2 linked regions of the Homo sapiens genome follow. The protein of the gene in region 2 interacts with the protein of the main gene of each other region in a pairwise test. Each region holds a gene or a part of one and is shown on either strand. Other genes may lie near its edges.

The links. The genes of interacting proteins can lie anywhere in the genome.
Region 1: the proteins of ESX1 (region 2) and TRAP1 interact in a two-hybrid assay, tested with the Homo sapiens proteins (one large-scale study listed by BioGRID and IntAct).

Annotation. Positions count from the first base shown.
Region 1 is NC_000016.10:3,661,182-3,666,130, forward strand, and holds part of TRAP1 (heat shock protein 75 kDa, mitochondrial isoform 1 precursor), read right to left. Parts: intron 4,938-4,949; coding exon 4,790-4,937; intron 4,281-4,789; exon of another isoform or gene 3,279-4,280; coding exon 3,093-3,278; exon of another isoform or gene 2,382-3,092; coding exon 2,243-2,381; exon of another isoform or gene 1,787-2,242; coding exon 1,701-1,786; exon of another isoform or gene 1,465-1,700; intron 952-1,464; coding exon 806-951; intron 1-805.
Region 2 is NC_000023.11:104,251,090-104,256,826, forward strand, and holds the start of ESX1 (homeobox protein ESX1), read right to left. Parts: upstream 3,845-5,737; 5' UTR 3,761-3,844; coding exon 3,679-3,760; intron 3,489-3,678; coding exon 3,065-3,488; intron 1,740-3,064; coding exon 1,694-1,739; intron 1-1,693. UniProt on the Homo sapiens protein: May coordinately regulate cell cycle progression and transcription during spermatogenesis. Inhibits degradation of polyubiquitinated cyclin A and cyclin B1 and thereby arrests the cell cycle at early M phase. ESXR1-N acts as a transcriptional repressor.

The DNA of each region.
Region 1 (4,949 bases), on a different chromosome or scaffold from region 2:
CAGAGAATGTAAGGTACCAAAGGATGTTAAAGACCTAAATAGATCACATTCATGGGTGCAAAGAAGTGATACTGTAAAAAGAAAGAAACTCAAAAGATACCTAAAGGCAGGTGAAAAGACATTTACAACAGATAAAGGGCATATAAAGAACAACAGGAAGAAACGAGGGAAATCTTACGGCTCAGCCACTGTCAGGGCTGGGGGGTTCTCGGTGCACCCTGGAAGCAGCTCCCACCACCGGGGCCACAGAGAAACCCACACAAGCCCCAGACACGTGGACAAGAATACTCAGAGCAGCCTGGCTCTCCACAACTTCTGACCAAGAACCACCGGAGGCCCAGCAGAGCAGAACGGAGCAGTCTGCTGTGCCGAGGTGGGTTTCTGCAGCGGACATTATTCGGCTATGAAAATGAACTTGTGGCAGCCCCTCTGCATGGGCAACCCTCATGCCAAGTGAGCAACGTGAGACTTCAGCAAACACCAAGATCCACGTACAAAGCTCAAAACAGGCAAAACTGAGCATGTCCAGGACACGCACAGGTGGCAAAGCCATAAAGCAAAACGAGGACATGGTCACAGGCTGGGATGTGGCTAACCTCCCAGGTGACACCTGGGGATGGTAAGGGGCTGGCCAGGTTCCATTTCACATGGGTGCAGCCTAAACTGCATACAGCTCCTTATAGTTACCCACATGTCCACAGGCCTCACGCACTTTTCTTCTGTGTCACATTCCACAACAAAAGAACACCACACACAGGATTCTGGGGAATCCCACAGGCTGGAAGAGCCAGGAGCGTGGCCTCACCTGGGGTTGATCTCCAGCGTGGGCTGCAGGAGCTGTGCGCGCTCCTCCTGGGTCTTGGCCAGCTGCTGCATGCGCAGGAAGTGGCGGGCAGCCCCCATCTCCAGCACGGTGACCATGGCAGGGTGGGTGTCCAGTCGGAGGGTCACCTGTGAGCAAAGCCCGGGGTTGAGGGTGATAGAGGTTCCCAATGTGAGAGGGCTGGCAGGATCTTACCAGGGGTGAAGGTCACCCAGACCACGAGGTAGCAGGCGGGGTCTCAAGGACTCCCCTGGACCAGCGCTGCTCCCTCCCCATTACCCACTAACTTGTGGGCCCTGAGCTGATGCCCCACGCAAAGATACTGTGCCCGAGGGGCTCCACCACCCTGGTGCCCCGCTGCTGCCTCCAGGAGCTGCCCGAATCCATCGTCCTCTGCTCCATGCCAGCCCACCCTGCATGAGGCCCCTTCCTCCAAGTGACCATGCATGGGACGCTCATTTCTCACTCTGAGCTAGACAGGTTGGTGGGGGGAGTCTTAGCTCTCTGAAGCCCACCCAAAACCCCCGACTAAGCACCCAAGTGAGCATGTGAGCTCCTGAGGGCTGGGGTAGCATGTCCCTTGTTTGGAACCCCCACGTCCTCAGCCATTGCAGCTCCCACTCAGGATGCTGGTTTTTCAGTTCTCAGTTCACACCTGCTCTGGAGCAGGGCTGGGAGAAAGACACGGCCTTCCTGCCTCAGCGGCACTCCCGAGCAACACGTGCCGAGCAGGGACCCACAGGGTCTCCACCTGACACCAAGGGCTTCTGCTGCTGCTGGAAGGACACCCAACGGGCCAGGTACTGGGAGCCACCAGCTGGCCAGCCTGTTAGGGACACTGCGGCCAAGTGGTGGTCCATCCCCGGGAAAGCCTCACCTTCACGTTGGTGACACGCGACCCCAGCACATTTCTCATCCAGGCCATGAGCTCCTCCGTCTCCTTCTCTGATAGGCACTCGGCGGCTGCGGAAGAGCAGGCGACAGGGAGCTCAGGCCTGCATCCCAACTCCCCGGCTTCCATGGGGGCCACGCAGCATGCTTCCAGCTCCCACCTCCTCTCCCACCAGGATGGAGACACAAGCTAGCAAGATGCTTTTCATCTAAAAGTAAAACCTCAAAGGATGCTTCAGGTTGCCTGAGGCCCATACAACTTGGTTAGGGCTTTAAAAAAATACACAGCCTCTCAAGAAGCTGGGCCAGCTCCAGAAGCCACCGTGGCAGGAGCACTGGACAGACCCCTGATATCTAAACCAGGAGGCACCTTCCTCCAGTCACCAGGGTGCTCCCACAAGGCTCTTCTCGGGGGTGGCTGAGCCCAGGTCAACTGACGAAAACCCAAAGGAAGCCCTCGCTGCGGGGCAGGAGAGGCGTGCGGGGAGTGGAAACCAGCCCCACGCCTAGAGAGCAGGGGATGCCGACCTGGGGACCTGTCCTCAAACTTCTCCTCCTTGTAGTGATCCACGACTATGTCCGTCTCCACAGAGATCAGCTTCTTCTTGTCAAACTCACGAAGGTGCAGCAGGGTGAGCTCATCAAACTGCTCAAAGCAGAAGAGAACCTGCAGGTGGCCAAGAGCAGCTCCATCAGACCCCGGGGGCCTCCAGCCACCACAGAAGAAAGGATGAGGGCGGCAGGAGGGCTGGGGGAGCCAAGCGGGCCACACTGGGGAACACCGGGGCAGTTGGGGTTCCTAGGCCTGCATGACAGTTACTACGACACCTGGGTCTAAGGAAGGCTCTGACTGCCTTCAAGGCAGAAGCACTCCACGCATAAAGAAATCCACATGTGGCTGAGTGCAGTGGCTCACGCCTGTAATCCCAGCACTTTGGGAGGCCAAAGCAGGCAGATCATGAGGTCAGGAGTTCGAGACCAACATGGTGAAATGCCGTCTCTATTAAAAATACAAAAATTTGCTGGGTGTGGTGGTGTGCACCTGTAGTCCCAGCTACTCAGGAGGCTGAGGCAGGAGAATGACCTGAACCCAGGAGGCGGAAGTTGCAGTGAGCCGAGATCGCACCACTGCACTCTAGCCTGGGCGAGAGAGCAAGACTCCATCTCAAAAAAACAAAAAACAAACAAAAAAAACCACATGTGACCTCCAAGTGGGAAACAGCCGTCACAGTCGGTCCGGCCTCTGTGCCCGTGACCCTGACCCACTGTGCAGCCCTGCCCGGAGTCTTGGGCAGGTTCACCCAGCACAGAGCTGAGAAGGTCAAGACCCTCCCCAGGTTGCAGCCCCCGGAGCCCGCCCCACCCACCGCTCACCCACCTCTGTGTCTTTCTTCTTCATGGCCTCATAGTAGGGTGAGTGCTCTGCCAGGTGACGGTTGGGGGCGCACAGGTAGTAGATGTTGCGGGTGCCGGCCCGCATGCGGCTGGCGTATTCTGAGAGGCTGGTTAGCTGCCCGGAGGGCAGCGCCGAGGACTCGTAGCGCAGCAGCTTTGCTATGTCCTCCTAGAAGGGACGGGGCAGGTCACCACTTATTCCAGGCCCATGGGCTCAATGTTGCCCAACTAACTGGGCGCAAACCCTCCGATGCCCATGGCCTCCTGGCACTCCAGGCTGGCCCTGACCCGAGGGACGGTAGTGGACTCGGGGGTTGTCCGAGAGCAGGCCTTGCTCTGCCCATCAGGCCCCTTTTGGGAGCTCTGGGGGCTTAGGAAGCACCTCCTGCCCCAGGTGGCCCAGGGGCTCTCCAGGGAGCTACGCGCACCACGCCCTGGGAGGGGACCCCACCCAACAGCAGAGCCCGGCCTGGACCCAGCGTCTTCCCTCTGCCCTCAGTGACAGAGTCAGTCTCTGGTGGGCACACGGACACGGGTGAAGTCCACGGTTCCCGGCCCTCCTCACAGCTGGCTATGGCAGAGACTGGCTTTGCCCAGTGGGTTTCAGTGGGATTTGGAGAAGGGCCCTTAGGGGAGGGGTTTGCCCTCCTCCCCATCAGCTGAACGCAGCTGTGACCTCTAGAGCTCATGGGAGCTGCAGCTGGAAGGACGCAGGGGGAAAACAGAAAGAGGGAAAAGCAAGGAGCTGGACACCCAACCAGCAGGGCCCAGGCCACCCCTGCACACATGGTGGGTCTGCATTGATAAGACATGTCACACGTGCACACCTACAAAGACCTAGAAATGTCTCTGACTCTTACCTGTGTGCTGTTAACTCAAATGAAGATAAAGGAGAATGAAGAGGCCTGTGTCAGAAGCTGCCGAAGTCGGCAAACAACCAGAACACGGCCTCCTTGGGACCCCACACACGTGGTCACCCTCCTCCTGCTGCTGGGGAGAAGGGACACCAGCACGGGATGGGCTCCTGGGATGAAATGTTCTGGGGTTACAGTGGAGGCAGCCACACCACACTGTGAATGCACTAAATGCCACTGAATTTTACGTGTTAAAAGGTGAATTCTGTGAATCTGATGCTATGTAAGTTGTATCTCAATAAAAAATGGACAAAAAATGTTTATGGAACAAATGTTTCGTTTTTCAGCCATCCACTATTGGATTAACTGAACGACTGGCCCCTGTAGCATAGTATTTGGAGACTGATATCCAGTACATGATGAATAGTCCCTCAACAGACACTGAGACCACCCACTTCCCCACCCACGGGATCGGAGTCCTTGGCTTGTCCCACCTGTCTGTGGCTCCCCAGCCCCCAACATCCTCTGAGGGGAGACAGTGTGTGCACGCCCTCTTCCTGCCACTCCCTGGGCTGCACCTTCACACAGCAGTGAGGCTGAGCCCTTCAGAGCACAGCACAGCACTGGTGGGAGGGTAAGGATGTGCCTGGAAGGTGCCAGAGGCCCAGAAGCCTGGCCTTCCATTTCCTGACCCTGGTGGCAGCAGCAGCAGCAGCCAGGGTACCCAGCTGCACCGTCGCCACATCAGGGGACACCTCCACCAGCTTCCTCAGCAGCCCCAGGGACAAGGTGGCCCAGAAAAAGGCCTGGAACACAGCTCCTATACCTTGACCTCCTGCTCGGTGGCGGTCACAATGCCCTCCCGCATGAACAGGCCGTAATCTTCAAAAAACTTTGCATACTTCTCAGCATCTTTTTTACTCTGGTCAATGAAGAATTTGATCAGCCTCTGCTGTAAAACGTCCCGGAGTTTCCTACAGAAAAGA
Region 2 (5,737 bases):
TAACCAAAGCCAACAGATGGCAAATTTTGGTATGGGCCCATATTGGGTCTGCATTCTCAATACTGATTTCATAAAATAAGTCTACTATATTTGCAAAGAAAAGGAGGGGAGTGTCTATTAAAAGTGTCTTTGGGGGATATTCATGCTATAGAATTTGGAAATAGATGAGAACACTGTCATTTTTCCTTCTTTGTATTTTCTGGCTCTTTCTTCCTTCCTTCATAAATCCATTGAGAGGCCTATGCAAACCCTGGGAGGGAAAAAAGCAGCTCAGCAAACCTTTCTTCTTTTCCTCTGAGTTTACCTTGCTTCCCTGAGAAGGCAGAGGATACGTCATCCCAACCTGAGGCTATGGGCCCCTGGCATCAGGACTCCAGCATTCAGTGGTCTACTTTGTTGGGCTGCTTTTCCAGACATCACACCCACAGGCGTGCAGTGCAGTTCCATCACTACACTCACACACACACCCTGAGGCAAAGCTAATAAGCCCATTCTAACTTTTATTTATTTATTTTTTTGCAAATACTTCCTTGATGCAGCTATGGTCTTCTGTAATTTCAAACAGTCACCTTTTGATCCCATGACCTGCAAAATTAGTCATAACTGCCTGAGTAAATGAAAAGGTATTTTAAATCAACACAGGTAAGAATCTTGCCTGAACTGAGAGAACCCCCTAATCAATCAAATTCCAGAAAACCCACCTTTTCAAAATAATATCACCAAAAAGAATAAAACATCTAAGATGTTTTTTCTAAGGTGTTTACAAAAAAGCGAACATTCTCTTATGCATTTGGTAGTTTCATAAAGTTGAATTTGTGTGACATCTGCAATGCATGTGTTTGACTGTATACAATTCTTCTCTAATCTTTCCACCCTTCTTAGGTAAGGGAATTTTATTCAAATTCTTCTTTCTTTTTTTGTTTCATTTTTTAAAGACAGTTTTCCAAAGCTTACAAATGTTTTCCCCATTACCACTTAATTGAAATATGTTAGCAATGTTTTCAGGCTGACATCAAAATCTTCCCAAAAAATTAAAATTTAGGGCTGCCACTCCCTACTTTAGTACTGTGTTCTGTGTGTGAATTACTCCTTCACTCCAATGCCTAAATATAAATTCACTCATTTAGCTAAGTGCTTGTGCTAGGTTTTAAATATTTTAAATAATTTAGTACAGTGAACCTTCTTATAAAACTGAGCTATTCTGTGCATTAATTTGAATACTTCCGAGGTGAGACTGAGCCCCGAACATGACTCCATATAGAAGTAATCCTTTAGGGAAAACTAACATTCTCCCTAGAGGATACCAGTGTTAGAAGAAGGTTAATCTTATTTATTGGGATATATGTATGTATGTATGTGTATACATGTGCATATATGTGTACGTAAATGTGTATATGTACATATACATGTGCATACACTATATGGAGAGAAAGACAGATACAGATATAGAAGGAAGATGAAAACACATCTTTTTTTCCTTTAGGAAATCATATTTCCTCTGTTTATGAGCAATTTCCATAATCTGAAGTTTACACATCCTATTTTCTACCACTAAAGCCCCTACTGTTCAAAACTTATTTGTCAACCATGGAAAAGACAACAGAAAACACCAGCTTGAGAATGTCCAGGACAAAACCTAAAGCATGCTTTAGAATGGCTGTCCTGCCAAATTGCTTTTTCAAGATTTACTGACCTGCACTCTGTCTTCAGTCAAATTCAGGCGTGCTGCAAGTCTCTCTCTTAGGGGAGAAAATTACAAATATTCAGTATTTGGAGTTGTGGATAAAATGCAATAATATGAACGTGGCTCGGCTCAGCACTTTGGGAGGCCGAAGAGGTTGCTGAGGTCAGGAGTTGGAGACAAGCCTGGCCAGCATGGTGAAACCCTGTCTCTACTAAAAATACAAAAATTAGCCGGGCATGGTGGCACATGCCTGTAATCCCAGCTACTCGGGAGGCTGAGGCAGGAAAATCGTTTGAACCCGGGAGGTGGAGGCTGCAGCGAGAAGAGATCGCGCCACCGCTCTCCAGCCTGGGCGACAGAGTGAGTCTCAAAAAAAAAACATATATATATATATATATGAATGTACATTATTTCTCTCCCCCACCTCCCAGTGCAGTTTTCTGTAATACGGTTGGGACTCGCTTTAGGGAGGTTTTTCCCATTAACAACTTCGCTGTTAAATAAGATAGAAAAAGGAAACATATGTAAAAGCGCCCGATGGTTTGTTAGCTGAATATGACTCAATTCTTCTGTTTGTGAAACAGCAGAGAACAACCCTGGAAATCTTTCCTTGGGAAGTCCGTCCGTGAAAAAAAAAACAAAAAAAAATTAAATGCCAAAACACCTTTAAAGCGCTGTATTGAACCACAGTATTTCTGTTTATCGTAAAAAGGAGAGGTGAACTCTCAGGGAGGGAACTCCAAACCACATCGGCCAAGCGCGCCCTAGGGAAATTCTTTTTTGCTCTTTGCCGGGCGAAGGCTAAGTACAACGAAGCCAGAAAGGTCCCCTTAACCCTACTCTGACCTGTCCAGGTGCCCCCCGCCCCCCATTCCAGCCTGGCCAGAAAAGGCCTGCCCCTTCGTACACTACGGGTCGGTATGAGGAGGGCTCCGATGAGGCTAGCGAAGGAAAGGGGTCGCTGGCTACCGAAAGCTCAAAAGTCCGCCCCCTGGTTGTAAAAGTGCGCTCCACGTGGCAGGGCGGTTACTAGGGCGAAAAGAGTGAGGCGCTCGCCACGCGCGCACAATGTAAATGGCGCTAAAAAACTCGATAATCAAGACAAATAATATTTTAATGCAATATTAAAACGTATCAAAATTAATGCAAAAACAACCCATGGTGAGCAAATTGCCAAAATTTTAAATAAAGGCGGGATCCCACCCTGCCTCACTCGCTTTACCCTAGTCCCGCCCCAGTCTTTTACATCCTCCGCGCCCCGCCCACCACGTCCCCCAAAAACCAAGGGCGGAGGCAGCGCCCGTGAGCCCCCTACGTGGCTTTTAGCTCCGGTGAAAGGGTCCCGGGATGAACTGGGCGCCTCCGGGGCAAGCCACTTACCGCGCCACAACGTCGGGATATTGAGATTCATCGAAAAAGTTCTCTAGCTCCTGCAGCTGAAACTGCGTGAACGCGGTGCGGCGGCGGCGTTTCCTCTCTGGGGGCTGTGGTCCCTCAGCGGTTTGTGGCCCCTCCGCCGGCTGTGGCCCCTCCACGGTCGTCTGGGGCGGCTCCTCCTGCTCTTGCTTCAGCTCGAGCAGGGGCGGCTCCTCCTGCTGTTGCTCCGGCTTGGTCAGGGGCGGCTCCTCCTGCTGTTGCTCCGGCTCGTGGCCGCCGCCACCCTCACGGTCTTGGTCGTCCGAGGGGACGGACCCTTCCGTGCCAACGTTGTTTTCCGCTTCTGTTCCGTACTCAGGTTTGGACCGTGTATTCTCCTCGTCCTCTCCTCCCCTTGCCATCAGCGAGGTCACGGTAAGTTTCTCATCTGGGAAGGGAGGAAAGCAAAAGAGACACCAGGGCGTTGGAGCCCACGGCGCGTGGGCTGGAGGAGGCAGGGGACCCGCTATGGAAGAGCAACTGCGACAGCCGCGCAGCGTCTCCTCCGCTTGCCTCTCCCAGGGAAAAATTCCTCTTTTGGAGTTCGCGAAAGCTCCCGTCCCTGTCCAAGCACTAACCATTCACTTCCTCGATGTCCTCGCCGACTGCCAGGCTGCGGTAGCCAATATCACTGTGGGTGTACCCGCGAAGAGACTCCATGCTTCAAGCGCTGTCGATAAAGCTGTGCACTTCTGCAGACTCTGTGCGTGGTTCCGCGGCGATCCCGGGGTTGGAACTGGCTCTGGGACCAATGGCTCGGGCGAGCGCTTTTCTGGCGCCGGGACCTCTTTCTGGCGCCGTCTGGCACTTGCGCGCCCTATATAGCGGTACGGTGCCTTCCGCAGGTTCAAAGCGTATGCACACGCGTCGGTTAAACGCCCCCTATTAGCATTCACAGTACATCTAGTTGTGAGTGCGACCCCCGGGGGACGCATTCGTGTCCAGGGCGTACGAAAAATAGGGCGAGCGTGCGCAAGCATGGTGCAGGTAGTGAACATGCTTTGCGGGGAACAGTGGCCCCAAATTGCTGCTTAACTAACTACTCCCAACTTGAGCAGAGACCCAGATTGGAAAAAGCGGCTGGGTTGTGAAAGCCGATTTGGGGGCGAGGAGACGAGGGGGCGAGGGGGCGAGGGGGCGAGGGGGCGGGGTGAGACCTCGCACCAGCCCGTGGAGAGGTATTTTGGCAGTGTTCCTCCGCCCAACCGTCTTTACCCCGCAGCACTTGGGTGGAGCGATGCCCTTTGCTTCCCCCACGGAAAAGACCGAGAGATGGCGTTGAGGAAAGCGCGGAAAGTTCAGCAGCCCAAACATGCGAAAGTGAACTTGTTAGTCTACCATGCAATTGGGTTCTGAGCACGACTCTCCCCTGCTAGAAATTAGTGACAAATGGATAGGACTATCTAGTTCTGTACAGTTCGCGCCAAAGTCAGGATAGTGATAAGGTGCAATGATTGGCTAGAAGGCTGCTTGCTCTGGATTTTTGAATTCAGAACCCACCGTGCATTCCGGGAGCGGGAATTTGGGGCTGAATTTGAAGAGCAGTCCGCTGCTCAGGTGCACGCTGCAAGAAACCCAACGTGCTTTTTGAGAAAGCTCCAAGGACTTAAGCTTTTTAGTAATGAACTTATGTCAGAGTGCAAGTATAGAAATCTGCTAAGTGCATAGTGCATCCAAGAATGCTTACACTACGGGGGCCCCGTCTTTTGATGCGCGGCACTTGAAACGTCTGCTGTACTAGGTTCCTGCGCTTCTTATTGCAGCGCGCTTTGCAGAAGCCCGTTCTGCAGGCTCCTAAAGCGCGCGTATTCCCCGGGTTTGTGCTGTGGACCTGGGAGAGTTCCCGCCTTCCCCACTACCCCTTCTTCCTCCTCCCCCTCCCTTTTTCTAGAACTATCTTCCTGAATTCTTGCTCCATAGTGATGTATCACATTAAAAGTCCTGGGCTATGATTGAAGGCTGTATGGTTCTCCCTCCAATAAGTGTTTGCAGGTTCTCCAGGACGTGTTAATATCCGTAATATTATAAAAATAACTCTGTAGACTTAGTTACTAGGGAGGCTGAGGTGGGAGGATCGCTTGAGTCCGGGAGGTCAAGGCTGCAGTGAGCCATGATCAGGATACTGCACTCCAGCCTGGACGACAGTAGACCCTGTCTCAAAAAATAAAAAAATTAAAAAAATTTTTAAAAGCCTGCTAATAATTGGCCCTATGCTTGCCACTGTACACGATTTATCTTACTTTCGCCTTGATAACCACCATTATCATCCCCCCCCCTTTTTTTTTTTTTGAGACGGAGTCTCGCTCTGTCGCCCAGGCTGGAGTGCAGTGGCGCGATCTCGGCTCACTGCAAGCTCTGCCTCCCGGGTTCACGCCATTCTCCTGCCTCAGCCTCCCGAGTAGCTGGGACGACAGGCGTCCGCCACCGCGCCCGGCTAATTTTTTGTATTTTTAGTAGAGACGGGGTTTCACCGTGGTCTCGATCTCCTGACCTCGTGATCTGCCCGCCTTGGCCTCCCAAAGTGCTGGGATTACAGGCGTGAGCCACCGCGCCCGGCCTATCATCCCCCATTTTTTAAAAAAAATACAGAAGACTGGGGCCCAAAGAGCCAGGCAACTTGCCAATGGCAATACAAGC